Homo sapiens: one gene and its partners. The protein of the gene in region 4 purifies or fractionates together with the protein of the main gene of each other region. This does not show direct contact. Each region holds a gene or a part of one and is shown on either strand. Other genes may lie near its edges.

Region 1 (7,293 bases), on a different chromosome or scaffold from region 4:
GAACATGTGTCAAAGCTTCTGTTCAGGAATGCTCTGCTCAAATAGATATGTGGCAGCTTTGCAACCTTGTCTCTGGCTCCACATCCACATACATCCCAAAGTGCTACTATTCCATAAGAAATATGAAAAGTTTCAGAGCCATTCCGTACAGGATCAAGTGCAGCTGGCTGACACTGATAGAGTCTATAGTTTGTGCTGAAATGCTGGCCCAAACATTTCATCTACCAACTCATATAATTTTCTTTCTTTTTTTCTTTTTTTACAAAGTCATTTATCTCTACCCTTGAATCAGCAGCTATTTTGATGACAACTATCAGATTGGTGGTCTTCATCCAACTTATCCGAAAGAAATAAGGAAGGCAAGTAGTTAGGGCACCTTGCAACTCTTCATTCGTTTTCTCTCGCCTGGGGGCAGGAGCAGGGAGGACCCTATTTTCAGTTGACTGTGATGCGGGAACTTCTTCTTCATCTGTTAAGTCCTCCATATCTCCAAAGAGAGTGGCCAGATTTTCCTTTTCGTCTCTTGTCTCTCCTGTTTCTCCATCATCAGCCTCTTCTGTATAAGATTCACCGTCGCCGTCGGCATCAAAGAGCTCATCAAATGCGTCGGGCTCGCCATTTTCCCGCGTCAAGAAGTTATTTTCTTCTGAATTACAATCCAAGGCTGACTCATTTTCTTCCAGCAGTGCGGTCAGCAGAGACAGATTGTCTTCCTCCTCTAGGGGAAAAGAAGAGAAAGGACAGAGAATAAGCACGGCTAATTCCAAACATTCAACTTTAGGCAATTTAAATGACCCCATGGGGGTAAGAGAAACTACCTAATGGGTACAATGCTCATTACCTGGGTGATGGGTTCAACCATACTCCAAACCTCAGCATCACACTATATATACATCTCTGTAACAAGCCTGAATCTAAAATGAAAGCTGAAACTAAAAAAACAAACAAACAAACAAACAAAAAAAACAAAAACCTACAGATGCACCATTTTGCCTGGTCTTTGTTCTCCTTGTCTCCATCTTTCTTGTCCCCAGGTGCTTCTTAGGGGACACTGGGCTAAGAAGGAGCCAATACTGCTTAGTGAGTAGAGTGGGCCAGCCACGGGGCCAAATGTCCTCAAGCATTCTACTCCAATCAATGAGACAGCTTCCCGCACACCGACTTCCATGAAATTCAACCAACAAGGGAATAATTTTAAAACACCAAACATAGATTTAGGCTTTAGATGTATATAATTCCTGACCTTCAAATTATTTGAGATTTAAAAAAAAAAAGATACAAACTATATAAAAAATACTAAGATCCCATCACCCAGAATTAGCCATCATTAACATTTTGTTGTTTGCTTCTTGCCTTTAACATTAAATAACACCTTCCAGATGAAGTCTGTCATGCCAAATCTTATCCCAACTCCTGACCACTGCCCCCACTTCCCATTGTAATCACTTTCATAATTTTGAGGCATCATTCCAGTCCATTCTTATGCTTTTACATAAATATATAGGCAGTCATAGTCAATCTATATTAGATGGTTTTAAAAATATTTACATAAATATTCCACACTGCATTACTCTGCATTCCAGGTTCATTCAACATTGCTTGTAAGATTAACCCAAATCAAAACATATAGTTCTAGCCAGGCGTGGTGGCTCACGCCTGTAATCCCAGCACTTGGGGAGGCCAAGGCAGGAGGATCACCTGACATCAGGAGCTCAAGACCAGCCTGGCCAAGAAAGTGAAACCCCGTCTCTACTAATAATACAAAAATTAGCTGGGCGTGGTGGCCCGTGCCTGTAATCCCAGCTATTCAGGAGGCTGAGGCAGAAGAATTGATGGAACCTGGGAGGTGGAGGTTGCAGTGAGCCGAGATCGCACCACTGCACTCCAGCCTGGGTGACAGGGCGAGACTCCATCTCAAAAACAAACAAAAAACCCCATATAGTTCTAGTTTCTTTCTTTTCGTTGCTATATTGTATCCTATAATAAGACTGTATCACACCTCATTAATCCATTTTCCAATAAAGGACAATATGGGCTATTTCTAATTTTTCCCCACTACTAAATACGCTGTAATCGTGTATCCGTCTTCTCGCACATGTGTTTCTTGGGAATATCTATCAGAAATGGAATTGCTGGATTGCTGGGTATCCACGTTTTCCAATTTTGCTAGATGCTGCCAAATTGTTCTCAAAGTGGATGCACTCTTGAAATGGCATAGTTCGTCTGGGGTAATACCTGAGGTTCGTTGTCTCATGCAAAGGAAATCAAGGATGCTGACACACAAGGAGTGAGGTTAAGTGCAGAGATTTAATAGGCAAAAGAAAGAGAAGAGCTCTCGGCAGCAGAGAGGTCCCAGAGAAATGGGTTGCCGCGTCCATGGCAAAATGCATGGGGTTTCATAGACGAGCTTGAGGACGCAATGTCTGATTTACACAGGACATAAAAGATTGGCTGGACTAGGTATGCCATTTGCATAGGGTGGAAAACCTGGCTGCCCCACCCTAATCTTTTATTATGCAGGTGGTTCTCTACCTGGCCAGCGCCATATTGTCTGTTTCTTTACTGTACACGTGGTTGACACAGAAAAAGGGCCGCCATGTTGAACACGCCTGGCCCCCAGGGAGCCTTTTCCTATTGGCACAGCTGCAGGTATTCATCCGTGCAAATTACTAGCTTGCTTTTCTATGTCCGCTTGATTTTTCTGGCTGGCCTTGTTAGAAATTACTTGGGGGCTGCTTTTTGCTAAAAGGGAAATTCTGCTGAGGACTCTGTTGCCCTTACTATCTCCCTAAATAATTGCTATCATCTGTATCACTCTCACTAGAGCTGTACACAAGGGCCACTTCTCCCCACCACCTCATCAATATCTGATGTGTCACTTAAATATTTTTTTGTCAATCTGATGGACGATTTAAAAAGGCATCTCACTGTTTTGATTTGCATTTCTTGGATTACTGGTGAGGTTAAGAATTGTTTGTTTATTTGCCAATCGGATTTCTTCTTTCTTGATTTATCTATTTTCTTTGCTCTTTTTTCCCCCCTATTTGGGCACTATTTGTTTATAAAATCAGAGGTATTCAATGGAAAAATATTAAGGATATCTGACCTACTCTCCTTGTCTGAAATTCAGGGGCTAGAGTATGAGAGGGTGAGGGGCTTGTTCAGGATCACATGGAGAAACAGATCAGTTCAGGAGCTGGGTTAATAAGGAATCTCTAGATCAGCAAACCAATATCCTTTCCACCACTCTACACTCCCTTACCAGAAGGAAAAAGCCAGTAGCCAAACTTCAGGCCTAGAATCTGATGATGGGGCCTAATGCTCAGTCAGAGGTTGTATAAGGATTAGCTTGAGTTGCTTAGTCCACAAAGACTCCAAGGCTGCACAGTGCAAGAGAGAAGAGGCCAGGCAGCCCCCTGTGCTCTGAGAATGTCACATGCCTGCAAGGAAGCAAAGAGGCCTCCACCATCTCTTGTTCCCGTCTGCCAAAGAGGGCACACCCCGGGAAGAGGCTCTGGCTCACACCACTGGGGGCCACAGGTGGAAAATGCTGCCTGGGGACCCCATACTATTCACTTTGAACCCTTCACAAGAGAACGAGGGCTAATCCCATGGTGCCTCACAACCCCGTTTACCTCAGTCACCACCAAAAATCATGTCTTCTCTGTATTACGCTGACTCAATCTCCCAGCCTCTTTGTTCTCAAACCCCTGGGATGTGAAATCTACTATCAGCACGTTTCTCGGATCCCCAGTGGCTCTTACAACAGAAATCTGGCTACCCCTGGAAGCCTCTTGAATGGAAAGCATTTAATTGTTCACACCTCACATGGCAATGTCTAGAATAGTGTTCGGCACGTATTAGGCATGCAACAAATACTTGTTGATCAACTTCAGGTTCCTGATGTCTTCTTTATCACTGTCACTTTGGAATGATTCAGTCTTTTTCCAGATCACAGCTCTCTGAAGTTCAAGACACCAGACGCTGGCATCAAGAACCCCTCATGGCACTGTCATGTGCTGATCATCATATGTGTATCATGCATGCCCCCCCCGGTCCTCCCCTCCATCTCTACTGTTATCACCCTCCTGGGGCACTTCAACCTCCGCAAGGATGATCCAGCCAACATCTTGGTCGCTGGGTTTCTCATCCACTCCCCATCTTAGCTACCCACTCCCATAGTAACTCCAACTCATCACAGCAAAGCACAACTGACCTCTGAACGTCCCTCTGTGATCCAACCTCCCATCCTTTCAGCCCGCTCACTCTAGTATTCACATCCAGCAGCTCTTCAGCTTCATCCACATGTCTAACCCATCAGCCTACCTACAATGTGTTTCCTGTCCATCACCCCCTGCCCCTAATGCCCTCCCTGTGGATCCATGTTCAACACCATCATCACTCACTGCCTTCTAAAGACTCAGCTCCCTGGCTGGTGAATGGTCCTGGAGAAAGACTCGCTACCATGCTGACTGGTCTTTTTTGTTTGTTTATTTATTTATTTATTTTTCAAGACAGGGTCACACAGGCTGGAGTGCAGTGTTGCAATCTTAGCTCACTATAGCCTCAAACTCCTGGGCTCAAGCGATCCTCTTGCCTTAGCCTCCCAAGCAGCAGGGACTAGAGGTGCACACCACCATGCCCAGCTTATTAAATATTTTTTTGTAGAAATGGGGTCTTGCCATGTTGCCCAGTCTCGTCTTGAACTCCTGGCCTCAAGCGATGCTCCTGCCTTGGCTTCCTAAAGTGCTGGGACTACAGGTATGATCAACAAGACCCTGCCTCAGTCTAACTTTAAATTTTTGCACACCCATAACAAACAAGCATTCAGCACTGCTTAAAGATTCCCACACTTCCTCAATTCATTCGCTTTCCCAGGCTCTGACCACTTCACACTGTCTCTCCTCAAACCTCCTATGCCCACTCCCCACTCTTTACTCTTAGCTGATGATATATATATATATATATATATATATATGTATGTATGTATTTTTTTTTTTTTTTGAGACAGAGTTTTGCTCTTGTTGCCCAGGCTGGAGTGCAATGGCACGATCTCGGCTCACTGCAACCTTCACCTCCCAGGTTCAAGTGATTCTCCTGCCTCAGCCTCCCGAGTAGCTGGGATTACAGGCATGTGCCACCACGCCCAGCTAATTTTGTATTTTCAGTAGAGATGGGGTTTCTCCATGTTGGTCAGGCTGGTCTCGAACTCCTGACCTCAGGTGATCCACCTGCCTTGGCCTTTCAACGTGCTGGGATTACAGGCGTGAGCCACAGCGCCCAGCCCTTGGCTTATATTTTACAGAAAAAATAGATGTAATCAGACTTCCTCATCCTTCACTCCCAACTCTGAACGTATCTTCTCTGCTTTCCCTCCTGGGACTAAGTATCTAGTGCTATTCACAGCCAATTCTTCCACTTACATTCTTACATTGGGTCCCACTTCTCAGCTTCTCAAAGACTTCATTCTACAATTACCACCTCTCTGGCTCCTGAATCCCCAGTTTCTCCCTCTCCTCTGAAGCACTCCTGTCAGCATACAAAGACATAGCAGTGTCTCCCATCTACTAACTACCCGTTTATTGTTTTGTTATCTTTCTCCCTCCACTAAAATATAAGCAGGAACATTGTTCAACAGTATATCCCAAGTACCATACAGTCTCCGATTTCCTCTACACCGGCCAAATTGTGAACCCATGCCAATCAAATGAGATTTTCTTACTAAATATTATGATTTCTTTTTCCTCTTTTTTTTTTTTTTTTTCAGATGGAGTCTTGCTCTGTCACCCAGGCTGGAGGTGCAGTAGTGGGATCTCGATGCAATGCAACCTCTGCCTCCCAGATTCAAGTGATCCTCCAGCCTCAGCCTCCTGAGTAGCTGGGATTACAGTCACATGCCACCACACCAGGTTAATTTTTGTAGTTTTAGTAGAAATGGGGTTTCACTATGTTAGCCGGGCTGGCCTCGAACTCCTGACCTCAGGTGATCCACCCACCTTGGCCTCCCAAAGTGCTGGGATTACAGGCATGAGCCACCGCACCCAGCCTAAACATTATGATTTCTTCTTTCTTGACCTATACTGTTTCCAGATAGATACTATGATTTCTTAGAGAACAGGTATCCATTCACCTCTTATTTTCATGTCAATCTGATAGCAAAAAGTGATGCTTTGTATTATATAACCTGCCCTGTAGGCAATTTGCCAATTTTAAGAAACAGGAAACTACCATGATAGCATCAGGCAATGAGTTTCACATAAGGAATAACCCCTTATCTGAGGGTTTATTTTCTGTGGTTTTGATTTTCCATGGTCACTGTGGTTGAGGACAGTACAATGGATATTTTGAGAGTGCAATAGATACTTTAGAGAGAGACCACATTCACATAACTTTTATTACAGTATATTGTCATAATTGTTCCATTTTATTATTGTTGTTCATCTCTCACTGTGCCTAATTCATAAATTATACTTTATCACACGTATGTATGTACAGGAAAAAACACAGCATGCCTAGGGTTTGGTACCATCCTGGGTTTCAGGCATCTGCTGGGAGTGTGGAAACACATCTCTCAGGGACAACGGGGGTCCACTGTGCATCACAGTGTGAGGAATTTCAAGTTTTGTTTTAAAGGGCAAAGTGTAATATGTTTGAATTTTTTAAAAAAACCCAGTTTCAGATTATGAGTTCAATTATGCAACTAGATCTCTTCACAACCAGCACAATCATTTTAATTTTTTAAAAATAGAAATGAGGTCTCACTCTATTGCCCAGGCTGGTCTTGAACTCTTGGGCTCAAGCAATCCTCCCACCCCGGCCTCCCAAAGTGTTGAGATCACAGGCGTGAGCCACTGCGTCCAGCCCAGCACAATCATTTTAGGTGATCGCTAATTAGTGCAACATCTCTTTTCTAGGTAAACATTTTGTACACATCCTTGCAAAATGAACAAAATTAGAAAGGATGATATTAATAAAAACTTAAGTCAGAGCTAGACTAATATCGCTTCAGCAGATTTCATTATCAAATGTAAACTCTGAAGTCAGACTGCCTGGTTCAAAGCCCTGCTATGCCAGCTTGAACTGTGACAAGTTACTAAACATCCCTGTTTTTCTGCCTATAAAATACGTTTGCCTGAGGACTGAATCAGTTAATTTCCACAAGGATCTTGGAGCAGTGCCTGGCCCACTGTACACCTACCAGCTATTGTAATTATGAAAGACAATCTCTGTTGCCAGAAGAAATCTCCCCTGATAAAAGCAAGTAACATTCAGTGACCTCTGTGAGATGTGAGA
Region 2 (7,293 bases), on a different chromosome or scaffold from region 4:
ACTCATACACTGTTGGTGAGAATGTAGACTACTACAGCCTTTGTGGAGGGCAATTTGGCAGTATCTATCAAAATTTAAAATGTGCATAACCTTGGATCCAGCAATTCCACTTCTAGGAATTTATCCTAAAAAGCACACAAAGATATATGTACAAGGATGTTCACTGCAGCACTATTTGTAATAGAAAACATTGGAAACAACCTAAATGTCCATTAATAGGGGACTGATTAAATAAATTATGGTACATTTATACAGTAGAATCTTACACAGTCATTAAAAAGGAATGATTCACATGTACAGACATGAAAAGATGTACAGACATGAAAAGATGTCCAGGATACATTTTTTTAGGTGAAAAAAAAGTTGCAGAACAGTATAAGAGATTTTGTGCAATATAAAATGAACTGTAGACACATCTATGTACACAAATAATATATGCTTGTATGCAAAGAAAAAAGTACTGAAGGCTATGCATTAATTTATTAATAGTTGTTACCTCTGGGAGGAAGGATAGGGAGTGAATGGGCAAGAATGAATGCTTGGGGAAGATGAGAGCTTCATTCATTTATTATTTTGTTGAATAAGCATATATTATTTTTATAATTAAAAACCAACAAAGCTAGATAGATAAATAATTATCAGTACTATTTCTGCAACTTTGGAACTGCAAGGAAGCAGATGGGGATTCCACTTGGGAGTCTAGCTTTTATTAAGGTTTAAAATTATAATGTCTAAAGCAGTTCTTAATTTCATGAGTTACAAAAAAATAAAAGAGCAAAGTGGGAGTGGAGGATACTTACATCCACAGTGATGTCAATTACCCATTGTGGCACTGTTTCATTAAGAAGCATAGACTCAGTCTCACCCCCGGAATCTCGGCAGAGCAGCCTAAACATAAACCATCAAGTAGTAAGTAACCCAACAAGCACAGATGTCAAAATCACTGTCAACAAATATTAGCGGGAGGAACCCTCATGGTTTTCATGTAGGATAACCCCCACTTGACAGCTGAGGAAATAAAAGTACAGCCTGGAAGAATGACTCACTCAGCTAAAAGGGAAAGCAGGCCCTAAAATCAGGCCCCCAGATTCCAAGGCCAGGCATACACTACAGCTGCTTCTTGGAGTCCTTGGGTGATGACAGGAAACCTGGGTGCAAGCAAAGCACCCAGTAAAGGTCCCCAGCTAGTGCCACAGTGCATGGCAGAGACTTTCACACACAGTGGAAGTCAGAATATTTCTGGTAACCACTCAGGAAACTATCAGAAAGATAGATAATCCTGCACTCAAGAATAAGACAAGCATGTCTTATTCTTTCTTTCTTCTGGCACCTATAGACTAGTAAGCTCTCCCCCGGCTCTACCAGGACCTTGCTAGCAACTTGGAGGTGAACCAGTCCAGCCCTTCCCTGAAGGGCCCCACACATAACTGTCTGGCACCCCAGGCAGTGTCAGTGTCAGCCTCAACAGTTCCCAGGAGCAGCCCAGCTCATCTTGGCTGGATCAGCCTAAGAAAAGTAATGTAATGTACTCTGAAGCTCTTCTGTGGGCAGGGAATTCTAGTGGTATCATCTGTTGCTTGGCCCTTGCAGTCACACGGGCAAAGTGAAGGAAAGTGAGAATTACCTACAGAAACCAATAGAGAAGCTGCTTCGAGGCAAAGTATTCTACCTCATTCGAACACTAGAGTTTCTCCTCCCAATTAGAATGTGGTCTAACAGCAGCAGACATTTCACTATCTCATGGACATGGGATGCTTCCAATCCCTGGCATCCCTAGAATTTAATAATAAACTATTTCTAATATCGAAATACTGAGTTTGAGTCGACACTTCTTAGCAAATGGGATACCTTCTCAGGCAGAACCTCTTGTCTTTCTTACCCATACCTGAACAGTGTGCGACCTCCAGCTTCACCAAAGATCACGGGTGTATGTGGGGGCACTTGAAAATATCCATTTCCCTTCTGCACTCGGTTCTCCTGCTCCCCATTTACTAGGAAAAGATGCAGGTGGTGTTAATATCAGAGTTAGTGCTAAAAATACAGATTCTAAACATTTTACTCCCACAAGCTTCAAACATTGCAAGATTAAATTCAAATGTCCTCTAAGTCCACCAGAGTTAGAAATAAAGGTTAAAAACAAGTTAAATTTCTGAAAATAAGAAACACAGCAACTTGTGGTCTATTTCATGGAAAAAATGACTGTATTTTAGAGGATTTTAATAAAAGAGATTAATGTTTGAGATTCAGAACAAAAACATAACCAGCTACTTCAGCCACAAGGAAGTCTAGGACAGCCTGTATATAAACGAAGATCTAGAGTTTTTTTGTTTTTGTTTTTTGTAGAACACCAAGCTCAGAAAAATTTCTTGAGGAAAAAAAAATTACATTTAATGGCAGCCATAACTAAAGACAGAAGCATTTGTGAAAAAATCCTCAAGGAGTCCACAATTTTGCTTTTATTGTTCTCTGCAGATTTCCTTTCCACTGTTGTTTTTTCTTTGAGACGGGGTCTCATTCTGTTGCCCAGGCTGGAGTGCAGTGGTGTGATCACAGATCATTGCGGCCTCAACCTCCCCTGGCTCAAGTGATCCTCCCACCTCAGCCTCCTGAGTAGCTGGAACTATAGGCACACACCACCACAACTGGCTAATTGTTTACATTTCTTGTAGGGACAGGATCTTGCTATATCGCCCAGCATGGTTTCAAACTCCTGGGTTCAAGGCTGCTGGGCAGGGCAGCCTAAACATAAGCCATCAAGTAGTAAATGACCCAACAAGCACAGACGTCAAAATCACTGTCAACAAATATTAGAGGCCTCCCAAAGCACTGGGATTACAGGTGTGAGCCATCACGCCTAGCTCCATTCTGCTTTCTTCATAAACTTTTGACCCAGCACAGGTGGGTGATACCAACTCAAGTGCCAATTCATTCATGACACTTTCCTCATCAAACTGGAAGCATCTGACCCCCTGAAATCCTATAGCATTTGTGGAACCTCTCTCCTAGCACCCTTCTATCTCAGAATGCTTTCCATAAGTAACTCTCTGCCATACCAGAACATCAGCTCCTGAAGGACAGGGACCATACCCATGTGTCTTTAGTACCCCCACCTGAAACTTGGTAAGGGCCCCTGAATAGTAGAGCTGCTCACCAAGCACCATCTGAACAACTCCAGAGTGTCCACTGAGTATGCTGCAGGTGCTGTGGTCTGAGCTCTGGATGAGGAAGTAGCCATGCCCTGCCCTACCTTTCCCATGCAGTCTGATGTTAAGGATGACGTGATTTCTGGTGATGTCTTCCTTATACTCCTCACCCAAAGCCTAGATCCAAAGGGTGCATGACTATACCACTGTTTTGATAACTTAATCCTTATTGCTTATTTGGGTGGCTGAGAGTATCCCATCTAACTGGAAATGATTTGCCCACAGCAACATAGCTGTTAAGCAGCAGAGCCCACCCCAGAACCTAGCTTTCTTGACCCTCTGTGGAAAGATTTTTCCATCAGTTTCTTTAGCTCAAAGTCCACTGTACAATTCTGACAGGGATCAAAGTGTGTCAGGTGATGTAAAAGAAAAGCCACCATGGGTGGGGCAACAGCACCCTCTCTCTGACAGGAACATCAGAAGACTGGTTTTCAAGGAAGCATGTCATCCTCATGTGAGAGATTTAAATTCCACATATCATTATGGGTGAATCTGACAGCCAGAACAAAGTCCCTGGCAGGAGGTACTCGCCATTGTTGCTCACTCCTGGTGGCCAGCAGAGAATCTTCAGCAGAGTAAGCCTCAGTCGATGGGACTCAATGATTCCTCAACCAGCTGTAGGTTACACATGAGGATGTGAAATTCTAAGTTCTTGTTTCCCCTTCCTTTGATCAAACTGAGCCAAATGCATATATTCAAAACATGTTCTCCTCTGCTGCTCAGGGAACGTTACTGCCACTGCCTATGGCACACACACGTTTCAGATGTCCTCAGTGACATTAATTCTTTACACATGCTTGAGCATATGCCCTGTCACTTCTGAGTTGGAATTTGAATTTTTTTTTGAAACAGAGTCAAAATCAGGTAGGCCATGAGACTAGGAAATACCAACATTTCAGCCCAACATGAAGAGTGACTATGCAATGACAAACCTGGCTTTCTGATGCAGCTAACTACCTAGCTTTGGAGGTTAATCCAAAAGATCAGAGGTACCTTGAAGAATATTTTGGAAATAAGTCTGTTAAGGTGCCTCATTTTAAGACAAAAGTCATCTGAATATAGAGTATTTTATTTATCTTGAGCAGTCTCACTAAAAGCCATATCATAAGGTGGTCTGCTCTTTTGGAATCTCAGTCTCAGTTAAGACTGGATGGATGTTCCTACTTTGAGATATGGAAGAGAGGACAATAAACTGAGTACACCACAAATATTTTAGCTAACGGTTTAAGTAAGTACCTTTTAGTAAGTACCTTTTAAGTAAGTACCTCTAACTTTTTATGCAACTATCTGAATATAAAAACTAACCATGGTTTACTTCATTTTCCTCTTCATCCATTGGATTCACATGTGTTCTAGGCCAATATTCCAGGAGTGCTTGGAGTAAAAGTCCTCCTAAATTCACTGCAAAAAAGTTAATTAAAAAGAGATAAAATGGAAAAGCGAGTTACTTGGCTTTAACCTAAAAATAGAATAAAAATTGTAAGTTTGTACATATTCTGATGTTACATTCTTAACCCAATGCGAATGATGTCTAAAATAAAGACTTTAGTCATTTTGCCAATTCTGCTAAAATTTTATCTTAGAATGTTTAAAGCAATGATGCTATGGAGCAAAGACATATTCTACTTGGTTGTTCAGATACAGCTATTATTTAAAAACAAACATGAGAATCAGATTTTTTTTTTTTTTGAGATAGAGTCTCGCTCTGTCACCCAGGCTGGAGCGCAGTGGTGCAATCTCGGCTCACTGCAAGCTCCGCCTCCCGGGTTCACGCCATTCTCCTGCCTCAGCCTCCCGAATAGCTGGGACTACAGGCACCCGCCACCACGCCCGGCTAATTTTTTGTATTTTTAGTAGAGACGGGGTTTCACCGTGTTAGCCAGGATGGTCTCGATCCCCTGACCTCGTGATCCACCCGCCTCGGCCTCCCAAAGTGCTGAGATTACAGGTGTGAGCCACTGCGCCTGGCCGAGAATCAGATTCTTTAAACGGCTATTTCCATATGAAATTACTAAAATGATTTGTATACATTAGGTATTTGTACATACCACATTTTTAGGACATAGTCAACAAAATATAGAGAACTTTTACAAAGATAAGTACTTAGCAAAAAACAGCTCATATTCATCTTCTCTTTAGAAGGGAGGAAAAAAATGAAGGACACTTAAACTCACATTTTGGATCTGACCCATCAGGGCTGCTGAAACCAGCATCTTTTGCAGAAACCCAGGCAGCAAAACAATCACTTTCATCCAAAGTAATAGTTAACATCTATCAAAAGAAAAAACTTAGTGGCATCCCATTTGAATATATTCTCCAAACAAGTCTCTAAACCTTCATTTATTTGTACTATTTGACTAAAGTGCTAAGTCATAAATTCAGGAACCAAAATGTGTTTTGTGTGATTCAATGCAACAACACAATTTAGTTTCCTGGGATACCAAAGGCATTTTGTAACTTTTAAATTTTTTTCTTTTTTAATATATTTTTAATTTTGTTTTTTTCTTTTTTATTCCATTTTGCATTTTAAGTTTTAACACAAATTTTTTTTTTCACACCTAAAAACACAGGACTCTGTAACTAATAATAATTATAAGCTATAATGAAAATCTTCAATTATCCCAAATCATACAAGTATCAATTGCTAACTTACCCCTGTTTTTAAGTCTACTGAGAACCAATTTGGCACATACACCATTTTAAATCTTTTCTTAATTTCATCTTCAAAATCCACTTTGCCCAGATCTTCAACTTTACATGCCTATACATCAAAAGAAAGTATAATGATCAATATTAAGTGGTGAATTCACTTGATTCTGACTTTGCTATTCAAAATTTTACATATTTTCACATGTGTCTAAGTGAAACAGTCTAAAATACATTTCAAAAAGAATGTGGTCCTTTTTTAAAATAACAATCTGCTGCTATAAAAAATTTAAATTAAAAAAGCACAAAATAGTATTTGGGAAGAAACTGTATTTAATTGTGCTGATATTGATATAATATACCACCTCATCTTAACAGCAACGTGGCTCTTTCGAGGGTCCCAGTTGTCGGCCATCTTCTCAAAGGGGGACTGCTTATTTTCCCACATCCCATTGTTCCTTGATGCTCCATGGAGACCATTACTCTACCATCTCCCATGTAAAAACTTATTTCTCTGAGGCCTATGTCATTTAGCAACAGTAAACGGTACACCTTTCCTTCACTGCCATCTAGCAACCTGCCACTCTCCCTCATTTACTGGAGACTTGAGCCCTGGGGTCACTGTCTTGCAGTCCATCTCAACTAAATCTCTCTTCTACCTCTGACCTTGCCACCTTCCCCATTATCCTCAGCACATGACTCTGATTCCTTTTTCTCAAAACAAAGAGAAGCCTTGACAGAATCCCCTTAACTTTCTCTATCATTCTCCCTGGTGCAAGGAAAACGGTGTCCCTTCTGACTGTGCTCCGGTCCCCCTCACCTCTTGCTTCTTGGGATGACCTTGTATTGTCATCTACCCATGAATGTCTCTACTGGCTTCTTCCCAGGAGCAATGAAATATGCTCAAATTTCTTACATCTGAAAAATACCCAAATATCCAAACAAAACCAAACAAAATCAAAAGCTTCCTTTGGCCCTCTGACTCCTACATCTTCTCTAGTTTCCGCCGCTTCCTGCCTACCCCTCCAATCAAATTTCTTCAAAGATTATCCAGTCAAATTTTCTGTTTCTTCACCTTCAAATCACTACTCAACTCACTCTACCTGGCTTTTGCCCTTAAGACTCTACCCAGAGGCCACCCTCTTTATTTAAATCCATGATGTTAGTCACATCTTAAATCAACTCACAGCAGGTTAATGCCACTAACCGCAAGCTTCTTCTTGAAACACTCAATTAGTTCTGGAGCTGCCACTGGCTCTTCATTTTCTTACTCCCCCGCAACTTTTTAAAATCATATACTATTGTGGCTTCCTCTTTTCCCAACATCCCTGAAAGACTGATGACTTAGTTTCTTCTCAGTCTACATATGTCCCTTGGAAACTCTGACATTTCCTATGACATCAAACTGTAACCCACAAGCTGATGACTGCTGAGCCTTTTTCTC
Region 3 (7,293 bases), on a different chromosome or scaffold from region 4:
ACAGGAGGGAGATGGCCTGTAGCCCCCTCCTGCAGGGGACAGGGTGATGTACGGACAGCCAGCAACATGGGAGCAAGGGAGATCCCTTCCTACCACACAGGCCAGAATCCCCATGGAAAGCGTACCTAACTTGCTTGGAAAGTAAGGGAGAGAAGAGGGAGATGTTTGCATGCCTCCATAACTTTGCCCATGCTGTTCCTCTCCCCTGAAAGTCCTTCTCCCCCATGTACTGTCTGGCAGGCCCTTGTCATTCTTCAAAACACTGCCCAAATGTTGCCTACTCTATGGAGTCTTCCCTGACCAGTGGAATGCTGTGGTCCCTTCTATGAGCTTCCAGAAATCCCTCACTTAAACATCAGTCATACTGCATTGACTCTGTCTGTGTCTGACCCCGACCTTCACTGAGGACTCCTGAAGAGCAGGCATGTCACAGCCCTGGGTGCCCAGCATCCGACCCAAGGGTGCAGCAGGCCTCGGTGTCTGCTGAATGGATAAGGCAGCAGTGGCCAGGTGAGCAAGCAAAATAGGCTCTAGGGGAGGCTGAGACCCTGGCCTGACCTTCACTGACTGACCGGCAGCCCAGGCCTTGGCCTCGAGGGCTCCTGACTCTATTCTCACCCCTGCTGTGCCCCACTTCTAAGGAGTGGGGAATTTCCCAGGGGCACCCATGACTCCTTGAAAGCTCCTTCTCCCAGGAGGCAGGACAGGCCGCTTATCTCCCCCACCGCTGACCCCTCCCCCAGTCACTGCTGGTATAGGGAGGTCGGGAAAGTGGGGTACACTGCAGTGACCAGGCCCAGGGGAAGGAGGGGGCCCAGGCACACGCGGTCAGAGGTTGTCATACATGCGCAGGGTCTTCTCCAGCTGCTGGCCCACCCGCTGGTAGAAGAGGATCTGCTGGCGCAAGTAGTTCTGCATCATGTGCTTGAAGTCGAGCTCACGGCGCTGGTGGAAGTGGTTCATCTCGGCCTGCAGGGCGAAACCCACCACGCGGCAGCGCCTGCGAATGCCGTCTGCCTCGTCCTGCACCATGCGGCCCTCGTCACTCATGCGTTGGCTCTCCTTCACCTTGGCGAAGGCGCCTGGCATAGGCAGAGCAGAGGACAGCGTGTGAGGGCTCTGATCTCCATGTGCTCCCTGTACCCTTGAGGGCAGACAGCACCCTCATCAGCTCAACTCGGACGTCATTCCTGAGCCCCAGACCCACATTCCAGCCACCTGGGTGTCTCTGCCAGGATGTTACCCAAGCCATCACCCTCAGCACCTCCTAAACCAAGCACATCATCTTCTCTCCAAATGTGCAGTGCCACCAGTAGCCCACATGTGACCAGTCACAGCCCTGCTTGATGGACTATGAATTCAATGAGGATAGAGCCTGTCCTCAACCTCTCTGTGTCTCTGGTACCCAGAACAAGGCCTGGCCCACAGCAGATCCTGATATAGGCCTGCTGAACTGATTCAACCCTGTCCCTCACTGGACTGCTACAACAGCCCCGCCACGTCTCCCTGCCCTCCGCCCCAGCCTCTGACAGGTTCTCTGCAGCATCTAAAGAGGTATCCCAAGCTGGGCACCTTTCCTAGCTCTCCACTACCTACAGATCAAGGTCCACACCAATCTGCCTGGCCTGGGGGGCCCTCACCTCTGGGAGTTGGCCCCTGCACGCATTCCACACTGACCCCCATGTTCGTCAAACTCACCTGGCTCTTTCCTACCTTCCTACCTCTGCCCCCTGGATTCCTATTCATAATTCATGGCCCCGATCAGGTGCCACTTCTACACTGGAGCCTCTCCCAGTTCCCCTGACAGAATGTCTCTCCCATGTCACCTGTGCCCTGGCTCCCCACCCCCACCCCCATCACACTGCTGATTCTAAAACAACTCTTCAAAGGCCACCTGGTGTATCTCCCAGACATGCACGCCCTGTTCCCTCCTCATCCCAGCCCCCAGGGAACTCGAGGAGGTTGTGTAATAACCAGGTGACAGATGGGGGGTGGAGATGAACCTGGGCAGAGGACCCAATTTAGAAGAATCTGAATGAATGAACAAGCAGCTGGTGAATGAATTTCAGTTCTGAATTAAAAGGGACTTGACGAATTCTGCCTTTAAGCCAGTGGGGACAGTTGCTGGGAAGAGAAGGAAGTTTGCCTGTGCCTGGCACTCAGTCGCCGAGGGCTGCAGAGAATCCACCATACAAAGAAGATTAGGAGCAGGGAAGGGTTGGCATAGAGGACAGCACACCCCTGAGCACTGCAAACGCACCCACTACACACAGATAGCATGCTCAATACCCATGCTTTCCCACTTCTCCTTTAAGGAGGGCTCTTGAGGGCTGTCTAGATAATATTCTCTTCACTCCCTGGCTCAAATTGTCCAGTGCATTCTAAATGCATTCATTGAGCACTTACTGTATATCAGGCCCAGGGCTCTACATGCTGGGAATAACTCTGGATGCCTTTAGAAGGGGCAACATCCATGTTAGTTGATAAGTGCATGGCTAATCGGCTAATAGTAGCATTTCAGGCAAACAGACTCAAGTTCAGAGAGTCTCCAGGGCTGCTCACACAGCGCCCAAAAGAAATCTGCATTCCCCAGCTCCCAGCCCACTCAGTCCTTCTGCCACCTTCCCTGGACCACCTCCTGCACCATCTCAACAGCCCAGCCCTGGGCAGCAGAAGGGGGATCACCCCAAGGCCCAGGATAGGACCCAGTAAGAGACTTCAGAGCTAGAAAGGCCCAAAAGATCAGGTGTCCAACCCTCGATTCCACCTCCATCCTACTACTGTACAGAGGAGGCCAAGGCCCTGAGGGGCAGGAACTTGCCCAGGACTCCCAGCCTCTTTCCTGCCTGGTCCTCCACAGCTGGGGGTCGGACACCACTTCTGCTGCAGGGAGCCCATGCCAGGTCCTTCAGGCATATGTGTGGGGCCCCCAGACGTTGGACACAGGGATTCAAGAAGGTCCCAAGGAGTAGGAAGAACCGTAAGAAGAAAGGTAGAAAACAGCAGGGTGAAGAAACTGGAGTTAAACTTCCGCAGAAGGAACCTAGCTAAAGAGGAGATACTGAACTAGCCTGGATTCCACCTGCCGAGAAAGTTGGCACAGTGGAAGTGCATCTATAGACTTTTCCTGTCCATGGCCTTAGAGGAAGGAAAGGCCTCTTTTGCTGATGAGGAGCCCAAAGAGTAAGAATGAACCCATTGCAATGGTTAGGTATCCACAGACAGGCAGGAGGCCAGGGATGGGGAGCAAAGGCTGCAGAGGTCGGGGGGAAACAGAGGCCCCACCCTGTTCTCCGTTACCCCTCCACCCTGTGACTCAGCTCTGGGGCCAGGACCAGCTAATGCTAATGCACCCCACCCCACAGGCTGGGAGTCAGGGCTCAGGCCTGTCCAGCATCCCCCCGACATTCTACTTAAGACTTAACCTGAGAGCTGAGGACCCAGGGGGACCTCCTGCCTCAGCACTCCTCTTACAGGCTGGGTCCCAAAAATGCAGAAAGGAGGGTTGGAGCCCACCAGCTGCAAGTCCCAGGGATATTCCCTAAGCTCCCACCTCAATCCATCTTGCCCCTGCCTCTTGGAGACAGTTAACATCCACCCCAGGTTGGGGGCAGGAGGGAGCAGGAGGTCTGAGTCCTAGTCCTAGCTGTATCCTCTCCAGCAAGCCACTGCTCTTGCCTGGGCTCCAGGTCTCCCCACTGCCCAGTGGGACAGGTTGCACTAGATGTGATGCTGTTGACAACCTCTCACACGGTATAGTGCTTTAAGGAGTTTCCACATCTGTAAAATGGGATAATAATAGTACCTGCCCTATAGTATAGTTGAGGCTTAACTGAACTAATATGTACACAGTTCAAAGGAGCGCACCTGAGATACAATAGAAGCTCCAGATGCTACATGTTATGGCTTGAAAACTGCTTTTCTTTTCTTTTTTTTTTTTTTTTTTAATTTGAGATGGAGTCTTGTTCTGCTGCCCAAGCTGGAGTGCAGTGGCTTGATCTCGGCTCACTGCAACCTCCGCCTGCTGGGTTCAAGCAATTCTTCTGCCTCAGCCTTCCAAGTAGCTGGGATTACAGGCACCTGCCACCATGCCTGGCTATTTTTTTGTATTTTTAGTAGAGACAGGGTTTCACTATGTTAGCCAGGCTGGTGTCGAACTCCTGTGATCCGCCCACTTCGGCCTCCCAAAGTGCTGAGATTACAGGATGAGCGGTAGAGGGAAGGCTAGATGATGGCTCAGAACCCAGAGGCTGAACCCACCCATCCCCCAGGCAAGAACTTGTCCCTACAGTCGCCACTTTGCCTTGGCCACGCTGTCCCTATGGCCCCTCCATGGAAGCTCTGTGGTCCTGGGCCTCTCTCTAGCCCACAGGACCAGTGAAGGAGCACCCAAGCCTTCCTCCCTCCTCTTTCGCCTTCTGGCTCAGCTCTCCATCCCTGGGGATCCCCTCCCCCATCTGGGAGGGCACAGTGGAAACAGCCTGGGCTGCGGAGCCAGACACACTGGACTCCAGCTCCTGCTCTGAGGCTCATCTGCATCGCTGCACCTCGTCTGTAAAACGGAAGTGACCACATCGCCCTCCTGACCTGTCGTGAGCCTTAGGACCAGCCCCGCTCTTGCTGGCTGTCAAGTTGGGGGTCCATACGTCCCAGCTTGCCCTGGACAGTTACTTTCCCCTGTTGTCCCGGGATCACTATTGCTAGGGCCCCCTTTTATGCCCCAAACTGCCCTGGTTAATTATATGGTTACCCTTCTCTTAGGAGACCCCTGGATTGGGCTACAGGGACTAGGCCCGTGGGAGGACCAGGCTCCTCTCAGCTCCAGCCAGGGTTTATGTCCCATTTTATTTCATTTTATTATTTTTCTGAAAAGCATACAAATTTGTTTAATGTAAGTTTCACATGACATGGAGCCCTCCTAAGGAAATGAAGACCCTCGGGTCCCATTTTACTCACCTAGAGACTGAGGGGAGAAATCTCTCCCAAAGTCATGTCAGATGCAAAGTTTGTCCAAATCCTGGTCTCCTGACTCCCACCTAGGCCTCCACTGTCCTTCCTCCCACACACTCACCACCCATTCAGATGTCCAGACAGGCTGGACAGAATCCTGGGGGCCCAGGACCCAACTGTTCTTCTCTTTTCTTTGAGAAGGGCTCCACCCCTAAGGCCAGCATTAGGACCCCCTCCTTATCACTCCCATTGGGCTGTGGTCCCCAAAGCCTGTCCAGTTCTGTCTCAGTACCCCCTCCCTAACTTGCCCCACACCACAGGCCTGGGAGGAGCAGTGCAGAGCCCAGAACTTAGAGTAAGCCAGAGAGGGCTTGGCCCATTGGGAGGGGTCCTCCCGGGGAGGGAAGGCAGTGGGCTGGCCTCTGTTTCAGGTCAAATGCACCAGCACAGAGGACAGTGGCCTCTGACTCTTAGAAACACCTCAAGTAGAAACTCAGAAATGGCCTATCTCAGCTCTGTCTCTCTGCCCAGGGTCAGAAAGGCTGGTCTGGCTTCCCCCCAGCCTGGGAGGCCCTGGTGTCCTTCCTAGGTGTGGGGCTGCCCTAATGTCCTCAGCTCTGCTCTGGGTGGGGGGTCCCCAGCCACTGCATGGGAGCATCTGTTTAATCATTGCATTCCCCCTCCTGCTGCCTGCACAGGAACAAGCCATCTAAGGAGCTGGTTGAACCAGCCTTCCCACTTGTGCTCAGGGAGACACCTGCCCCAGTGGGCCCCCAGCAGGCCTGGCCACCTCCCCTGCCCTACTCCTGCCCCAGTGCTCAGAGCCAGAGCTAAGGTGTCATTCTGTTTCTGAGCCATACCCTCCCCAGGAGTCCCTTCCCACCCACTCCCTTGAAGGCCTGATGGCTCACTGGGACCCCATTCCCTTGTTTTACAGATCAGGAAACTAAGGCCCAGAGGGGCAAAGGCACTCCCCGGGGACGCACAGCAATCTAGGGGCAGAGCCAAGACTAGCACTCAGGTTTGTGTTTCCTGGAGTTCAGAGGAGGAGGAAGAAAGGTAGAGATGAGAGAAAAAAAAAAAAAAACAGAAAGAAAGGAAGAGGAAGAGGATATAGCAAGGGGAGAAAGGAGGCTGGGAGCTGGAGAAGTTATAGAAGTCAACCTCTTGGTAAAGGAAAGCAAGGCCAGCTTACCCCAGGCCCTCCCTGGTGGTGGTGGGTGACATGTTTCCTGTTCCCCAGGCTCAGTGCAGAGGTCTGCCCCCTGGCCCCACCCAGAGTCAAACTCCCCACCAAGCCAGGTCTAACCTCAGGGCCCAAGGGCCAGGGAGCCAGCTCCACGCCCTGCAGACGAGTTACCAAGCAGCCCCAGGGAGGATCACACCTCTCTCCTGACATCTGCCCTCCCAGCTGTGCCCAGGACTCAGGCACCTGCTGGGGCAGCCACTGGCTCTCTCCTCAGGCAAGAAGAGAAGCCAGGCTTGGGAAGCAGGAGTTGGATAGGCCATGTGGACAGTGCCCTGGACCCCTGATTCTGCACCCCTGGCCCAGCCAGAGTGCCCCTGTGTGACCCAGGATGAGTCATTTCCCCGGCAGTTCATGGACAGCCCCAGCAGTAACAGGCAGAGGCCCATCCTGTCCCTCCCCCACAGAGGGGGTCATGAGAACTGAAAACATGGCTAGGCTTGGGAAGTGGCCAACATGGACGTGTCCTTGGGGAGGTGGCAGGAGGAAGGGACAGTCCCAGCCGGGCCACAGGCTGTGCAACCACTCTTCTGTGGACACTAGCTCCTTCATCTGCAAAATGGGGACAGGGATCTTCCTGCACACAGACAAGACGCTCATAAAGAGAATACACAGTGGTGAGAGTAGCTTCCAAAGCTGCAAAGGTGGGGAGGTTAACTTGCAAGGAGCACAAGACAGGCCCCCACTCTGAGCTCTTGTTATCTGGGTTGGGTCTGTGTCTCCCAAGGGCCTACCGGCTCCTCAAGGGCAAGGCCTGGGGCCTGGTCATCTATGTGTTCTCAGAACCCAGCATGACACCATGCATGATGGGTAAACGAGATGCAAACAGAGAAAATGAATGAACTGACAAGAAGGTAAATATCAAGCTCCATGAGGACAGAGACCGGGCCTGTGCACAACAATATCCCTGCACCTAGAAGCACATTTGCCACAGACACAGAGTTGATATTCAACACATTTGTTTGTTTGTTTGTTTGTTTGTTTGTTTTAGAGACAGGGTCTCACTCTGTCACCCAGGCTGGAGTGCAGTGGCACAATCGGGCTCACTGTAGTCTCAACCTCCTGGGCCCAAGTGATCCTCCTACTTCAACCTCCCA
Region 4 (7,000 bases):
TGGAACTTCCAGGCACCAGCCCCTCCTCCCGGTGGCCACCCACATCCTGTTTCTCTCCACCACCCTTTCCTGGGGGTAGTACCCCTCTTGCAGGGGGGCAGGGAGTGATCCCTGAATGTTAAGCCAAAGGTAGAGTGGACACAGGGAGCTTCTGATCCAGTCCCCTTGGTTACAGGCCTGGGGCGGAGTCTTCCCAGGATGACATAGGGCTGGTCGGGGTGGGGGGCATGAGGTCCCAATGAGGGGACCCCAATATGGTTAGCATTCACCCTGGACGTCCTGGTTCTTCAGTCAGTGAGTCAGGGACAGGTAGGGGGAAGGAGAAGAAGCCCTAGAGGACAGTTTGGAGGGCTGGTGGACAGTGGGCCAGGAAGGCTGAGTACTGGTGGCCAGCTGTTGCCAGGGAGCTGGGATGAGAAGGCAGGTGTGAGGCGAGGGACTCCAGGCACAGCAACTCCTGCAGCCAAGGAGTCAGCAGAACCTCTGTGAGCTGGGCCACCAGAACCTTAACTGGCTGTTAAGGCAGGTGAACGGAGTGCCTGGACGAGGACCTCCTGCCCGCTCCCACGCCCCACCCCTCTGGGCTCTCACCGCACTCGGCCCTTGGTGTTCCGGAGCACAGACGCCGCGAAGCTCTGGGTCACTCCCACCAGACTTGTTCCATCCACCTCCACCAGGAGATCATTCACCTGGATCCTAGCGGAGTGACATTGGTTAAGGGGTCACAGGGGAACCGAGGAGCGAGGGTAGAGGTAGCCTCCTCCCATCAGAAACTCCAGGCTCCCCAGCCTGAGTACATAGTGAGAACTCATCTCTACAAACAATAAAAAGAAAAATTAGCTGGGCATGGTGGCACGTGCCTGTAGTCCCAGTTACTTGGGAGGATGAAGTGGGAGGATCACTTGAGCCAGGGAGGTCAAGGCTGCAGTGAGCTGTGTTTGCGCCACTGCACTCCAGCCTGGGCAACAGAGTAAGACCCTGCCTCAAAAAAAAAAAAAAACAAAAAAAAACAAGAAAAGAAAACAACAACAAAAAACCTCACAGATACTTTGTCCTCACAGGGACCTGGTACTTTGTCTACCTGCGTAACATTCACAAGGCCAGAGGATTAAGTGTCAGCCAGGCCCACCTGTGTGGGCAGTGAGAGCCAGGCAAGCAAAGCAGACACAGGCGTCCAGGACCAGGAGACGCGGCAGGCACACTTCCTGTGACAATCACACTCTTGTCCCCTCCTTCATCATACTTGACTGAGCGGTGTGACATTCTCAGAGTTCATCTCTGCCATGCACACTGGCCAGGAGCCCCACAGCACACAAGTGACATGCCACCCTCTTACGTGTACATTTCTGCACAGAACTGAGTGCACAGATGTCCTCCCAAGTCCCCAAGACCGAATGGCACTCTCTCGAGTTCACACACTGTCCCACACACACCTGATACAGGTGCACCTGCCGACACACTCCAGTTGTGTCCCCTGAAGCCCGTGTTCTCCATACAAGGGGAGGTTCAGTCTGGCCTGCTGAGGGAGATGGAGGGTGGGGGGCCTCTCAGACACCTCCCTCCTCCACTCCACCTCCCTGGGAGCTCCAGGCCTTCTCTCAGGACTCCCACACGGAAATGGAGGAAATGGCCTATTGTCAACAGCTCACCCCAACACATGCCACTCCCAGGTGGGCATGAGTGAGTGGCCACGGCCACCATGCACACTCACTCCTTAGACAACCCACAGGCAACAATGGGAAAGGCTCTGGAAGTTCACATTGGGAGGGGAAGGGGTAAATGAAAGGGTATCCTGTTCCCGGCCCCTCTCCATGCCACCTGGGCCACAACAGGTAGAAGCCCCTTGACAGGGCAGCCCCATCTCTAGAAACAAGATCCCAAAGTCACCCAGATCCCAAAGGACACCTGCTCACCTCTGTCACATGGAGGGGGTCTGGGTTTGGAGGTACCACCACAAGAGATCCCCAATGTCACCTCTAACTTACAGCCACCCTGGGGGATGCCCTACAGCCCTTCCTACTGCCACTCCCCACACCCCTGGAATACACAGCTAACACAGGGGTCCCTGGCTGGCACACAGCTCCAGGATGCCCTCCCTGAACCTTCTGTCCCACAGAACTCACCCCTTGCAACCACAGATGCTCAATACAGGCACACACACTCACATGCGCAAAGACAGCCTGTCTCCAGAGCCACTGCCATCAATGGGTCTAGTCACAGCCTCCTGGCCCCTGCTCTCTATGCCCCAGCCACACCTGCCTGCTCATGGCGCCACTGCCTGGAACCTCTGCACTCACTCCCTCAGCACAGCTAACTCCTGCTCCAGCCTTAGCTCTCAGCTCCAGCACTGCTTCCTCCAGGAAGCCTTCCCTAATGCCCAGAGAGATTAAACCCTCCTGTTGTATGCCTTCACAGCAGTCTGCATTTCCCTCCATTTCACTACCTTTTGTGTGTCCATTTATTCAATGTCTACCTCACACCACACTGCACACTTCTCAAGTGCGCCAGGCCCTCACCATTGACTTCCCAGGGCCCAGCACCGGCCCAACACTGTCAGAGACTCAATGTCCAGCGAAAAAAAAGCTCAAATATACTCCATGCCTGTCTTCTCCCTACCAGGGCCCAAACTGTACTCCAGACCGGGATGCACAACACACGCCTATAGCCCCCATGGTCACCAGCCCCTCCTGGAGAACACACGCTCCTTCAGGGCATAGGGGCTGACAGTGCTCACTGTTGTATTTCTGGGGCCTGGAACAGCACCTGGCATGGCAGTGCTCCCCGAACATCTCAGCTGCACACACAGCACGGAAATCTCCCAGGGAAGGCCCGCCCCACCCCCTGCTCAGTGGCCCACCCCACCAAGGATGGCCGGTCGGAGAGGGAAAAAGGGTCAGGCGAGACTGGGGAGGATTGGTACCTGCCATCCCGATGGGCCGCACCACCCTCCGTCACGGTCTTGACGAAGATACCCAGCTTCTCCAGGCCCATGTCTGCCCCGGCGCCCATGCCGATGATGCTGATGCCCAGGCCCTCGGAGTCTGTGGAACAGAGAGTGGTGAGATGGCAGGGCTTGTAGGGGACAGACGAGAGACTCTCCACCCCGAATTCCAGGGCACAGCCCCCCCATCAGGAAGCAGTCCCCATTAGGGGATGTCCCACAACTGAAGAAGGGATATAGTTCTGTCCACCGTCTTTGCCAAGTCTACTAGGATGGCTCCTGAGCCGCTCCCTGCCCTTTGTCCCTTCCAAAGAACCAATGGGCAGAAGAGCGTGCCAAGGGTGGCACAGGCAGGTAAGACTGTTGCATATGCAGACCAGGGCGTGTGGCCAGGATGGGGGTAGCCAGGATGGGGGTAGCCAGGATGGGACTCAGCCCTAAGCCTTTGGTCTTCTCCCTCTCAGCCAGTCTCATCTGTACTCATAGCTTCAAGGACCAAAGACCTCCAGATTTTCTCTCCCCTGAGGTCCATTCCCCTATCCACACCTGCCCCTGCCTGACTCATGGCCCTCTGATGTCCCAACTAATGACCTTCCCCCACAAACACTCCCTCATGGGGGATGGTACCACCACCTGCCACCTGCCAGACCTGGGAGGCACCTGGATTCCTCCCTCCCACTCACAGCCTCCACCTGAGCCAAATGACCCCCAGATGCTATGGATTCTACCCCTGGAGATCTTTCCAGTCCACCCACACCCGCTCTGCCATCTTCCTGTCCACGCCACAGTGGCCTTTCTCCATCCACTTGTGACCCCCTCCCTACATCACAGCCTGGTGTGGTCTTTCTAGACCTTTCCTGTGCTTCGAAATGGCTCCCAATCCATCTTAGCAACAAGACCACGTGGTCTGCAAGGCCTCATTTGCATGCTCTTCTTGCCCTCCCTATGCAAATGCAGCCAAGCCCCTTTCCTGACTACTCCCCTAATTCCTCCTCACCAGAGTGCAACTCAAGCTTCACTTCCCTGGAGAATGCCCCCAAGCACAGTCTGGTTAGGTCACCTGTTAAACGCTTTTACAGTGGCCCCTCCTTACCTTCCCCAGCCCCTATTCCAGCGCCTAAGGGTGAGATTAGATGTGACTGTGCCTTCCATGTCTGCCTCCCCCATCCATCTCCCCAGGAGCCCACCACTGTGTCCCCAACACAGAGCCCAGGACCTAGCACACAGTACCCTACAGAGACCTGTTAACTGAATGTGCAAATGTGGTTCCATGACCGGGGTGGTGGGGGTGTGGCTTGGCCTGGGTTGGAGGCCCTGTTTGCTCTGGGTGCTGACAAGGGAGGAGCGGGGAAGGTCACCAAGGGCCTGAGTCAGAGGGAGAGGCCCAGCAAGTCTGTGGGAGCCCCTGAGGGCACAGGGCAGGAGCTGGTGCCAGAGATGAGACCCGGGTCAACCCCAGCTGTGCGCAAGTGACGTGGCCTCCTGGCCTCTCACCCTTCTCCAGCTCCACAGGGAACAGCTCCAACCTCTCCACACGCTTCTCCAGCTCGTACTCAGCAGAGGCTGCCATGGGATCCACATCCTCGTTGCGACGATCGTAATCCTCGTTGGAGTAAGTGCTGAACACCTGGGGAGGGAGGCAGCTGGTCAGAGAGGCCGGCAGGAGGACAAGTGCAGAACTGGCATGAGGAGGCCGAGGAGGCAGGCTGAGTTACCCACCCCATGCCTCCCCATGATAGCCCTGAGATGAGGCCTCACCCAGTCCCCTGAGACCCCAGCTCTGAGCAAAACAAAGGCCCTTATAGTTCTGGAGCCCAGGGTCAAGACAGAAAGGGACCCAGCCTTGGCAGACCCGCACTGCTATTCTCTCTGTAGCTCCAACCAGCGTGAGCATGGTCTGCCATAGGCACAGAAGGGGAATCCTGGAGAAACGTCCAACTCAGGAACCCAGACACCCAGATAGAGGGAAAGTGAGAGATAGGACCCAGAGAGCCAGACAGGCGAGAGGGGACACAAAGACAGACACAGAGAGGAAGGAACAGGCTGAGCAGAAGAGGGGAAGAGGAGGAGGGGAGAGAGGATGGAGAAGATGCTGGAGAATGCCAGATGGGGAGAGAGGGGGGAGCGGGTGTGAGACAGAAGAGGAGGAGGGGAGCAGGAGGGGTGGAAGGGGAGAGGTACCCAGGACTGGCTCTGACTTGCCGCTCAAGTGGATGTTGGAGCAGGGGAGGGAAGCAGGAAAGACCATCTCTATCCCCGTGGAGAAGAGGCAGGCCCTCCATCCCCAGGAGCCCCTCGGGTGGCAGAAGCAGGGGAAAAAGCTGGGCCTGGCCTTCCCTGCACACCCAGGCCGCTCTCCCTCCACAACTGCAGCTCTCTAAGTTACGCCCCCTGTCCATGTGCTAGGGGGCCCAGGAGACTGAGGAGGGGACAGCCTCTGACACTGCCCACAGCGAACCCAGGCGCCATGGGGCTCCGAGGCCACCCCTGCCTTGGCATCTCCTGTACCCCTCTGTTGTCTCTCTCCAATGTCTCTCAGCAAAAAGAGGAATTCCTCAGCTCTGACTCCCTCAGAAGGACAGAGAAGGTGGGGCTGGGCTCTGTGGGAATGTCTAATTCTGGGCCCAGGCAGGGGTGCCCCCAGTGGGAGGTTAATGAGCACCATTTGGGGTACCATGACATGCTCAAGCTTCATCGCCTGCAGTGACAGGTTGGCACCACTTGGAGCCAGGCGGGGGCGGGGAGGGATGGGGAACAGCTCTATCAGTTGGCTGAGTCTGAGCCCCGAGGAGTCAGACTAGGACCCCATCTCCCCCAAGGGCCCTTGTCAGGGCCCGTCTCCTCCAGGAGCAGACCTTGTGGGCACCCTGGTGGGCAGCAGCACTCTCGTGTCCCAGCCTTTGTCTGGGTTTGCTCCGTGTCGTCCCCACCCCCTACCAGAGAGGCTCACTGCCACAGTGGGAGAGGGAGGGGGTGCTCATAGGACTAGAAGGCTTAGGTGGGAGGGACCCCTCTGGTCACTTAGCTCAATGCCCTCAATTTCACAGCATCAGAGAAACTCTGGCTCCAGCCCTTAAAGCTCATCTGTCCATTGCACCCCTCGAACAAACAGGCTGCCTACCTTGCACATAGTCCAGGGCACCAGGCCCACTGCCCAAGGTCACATGGGTTAAACTGTGGCCAGGCAGAATGAGACTGCACCCAGCTGGGACAGGTGGGTGGGTCACCGGTGACTTGGTTTCCACTGCACACATGCCCCAGGCTCTGGGACAGGGCTGATGTGAGCCTGGACTCAGCAGTGGGATTTGGCCCACTTTGCACTGGAGTCCCCTGACTCTCACCCTCTGCTCTAGGAGACACGGTCCCTTCATCATTGAGTCTCTACAGTCTCCTGAGTCAACGAAACCCCTCCCTGACACACATGGACACACACGCCCGCTGTGACCTCCAAAACACACCTCACAGCCTGTCCTGGGCTGCACCCTGCCCTCTTCTCTCAGCCTATCAAATCCTGTTCCCTTTCTGGTCCTGCCGCCTGCAGGAATCCCAGGCCTGGGCTCAGAGGCCCCAGACCACCTCCTACCCCTCCTCGGGCTGCCCACCATGATATGCCGGTCTAGCAGAGGGCCCTAGGGGAGGTCCCACCTCCCTGAGGCCAAGCTGGAATTGGGTTCTCTGCCCTCAGCAGAGGCCTCCACCTCCAGAAGGGCAACAATTGGGTCATCCATGGGGACCGGGACCCTGGACTTGGCATCAAGGCAGGGGCAGGAAGAAGAAAAAGTGGGGCCCCTGTGCCAGGGTGGGGAGGAGGAAATCCCCAGTGAGGCTGAAAGCCAGCCACACTGGGCCCGCCACACACGCTGGCTCTCACACAGGGCGGGCCAGCTCCAAAGTCACCAGGGAGCCGGGAAGCACTGCTCCAAATCATGTGCTATTTTTTACTGAAAAATCAGGGTAAGGCGTCAAATATAGACAGTCAGAGGCCCAGACCAAACTCCAACTCTGAGGGAATCGGACTTCTCGCAAAATTAGTGGGGGTGGGGTGGGGGGATCCAAACT

What was found.
Region 1: the proteins of PPP1R9B (region 4) and MCM10 purify together in Homo sapiens (affinity purification with mass spectrometry, with the first as the bait; 2 studies listed by BioGRID). This does not show direct contact.
Region 2: the proteins of PPP1R9B (region 4) and WDR48 purify together in Homo sapiens (affinity purification with mass spectrometry; 3 studies listed by BioGRID and IntAct, with this or other methods). This does not show direct contact.
Region 3: the proteins of PPP1R9B (region 4) and SNX33 purify together in Homo sapiens (affinity purification with mass spectrometry; 2 studies listed by BioGRID and IntAct, with this or other methods). This does not show direct contact.

What each region holds. Positions count from the first base shown.
Region 1 is NC_000010.11:13,164,347-13,171,639, reverse strand, and holds part of MCM10 (protein MCM10 homolog), read right to left. Parts: intron 719-7,293; coding exon 377-718; intron 1-376. UniProt on the Homo sapiens protein: Acts as a replication initiation factor that brings together the MCM2-7 helicase and the DNA polymerase alpha/primase complex in order to initiate DNA replication. Additionally, plays a role in preventing DNA damage during replication.
Region 2 is NC_000003.12:39,082,826-39,090,118, reverse strand, and holds part of WDR48 (WD repeat-containing protein 48), read right to left. Parts: intron 5,965-7,293; coding exon 5,857-5,964; intron 5,475-5,856; coding exon 5,378-5,474; intron 4,605-5,377; coding exon 4,509-4,604; intron 3,819-4,508; exon of another isoform or gene 3,735-3,818; intron 1,992-3,734; coding exon 1,886-1,991; intron 889-1,885; coding exon 801-888; intron 1-800. UniProt on the Homo sapiens protein: Regulator of deubiquitinating complexes, which acts as a strong activator of USP1, USP12 and USP46. Enhances the USP1-mediated deubiquitination of FANCD2; USP1 being almost inactive by itself.
Region 3 is NC_000015.10:75,650,751-75,658,043, reverse strand, and holds part of SNX33 (sorting nexin-33), read right to left. Parts: intron 1,083-7,293; coding exon 829-1,082; 3' UTR 1-828. UniProt on the Homo sapiens protein: Plays a role in the reorganization of the cytoskeleton, endocytosis and cellular vesicle trafficking via its interactions with membranes, WASL, DNM1 and DNM2. Acts both during interphase and at the end of mitotic cell divisions.
Region 4 is NC_000017.11:50,140,678-50,147,677, forward strand, and holds part of PPP1R9B (neurabin-2), read right to left. Parts: intron 4,569-7,000; coding exon 4,436-4,568; intron 3,042-4,435; coding exon 2,921-3,041; intron 697-2,920; coding exon 592-696; intron 1-591. UniProt on the Homo sapiens protein: Seems to act as a scaffold protein in multiple signaling pathways. Modulates excitatory synaptic transmission and dendritic spine morphology. Binds to actin filaments (F-actin) and shows cross-linking activity. Binds along the sides of the F-actin.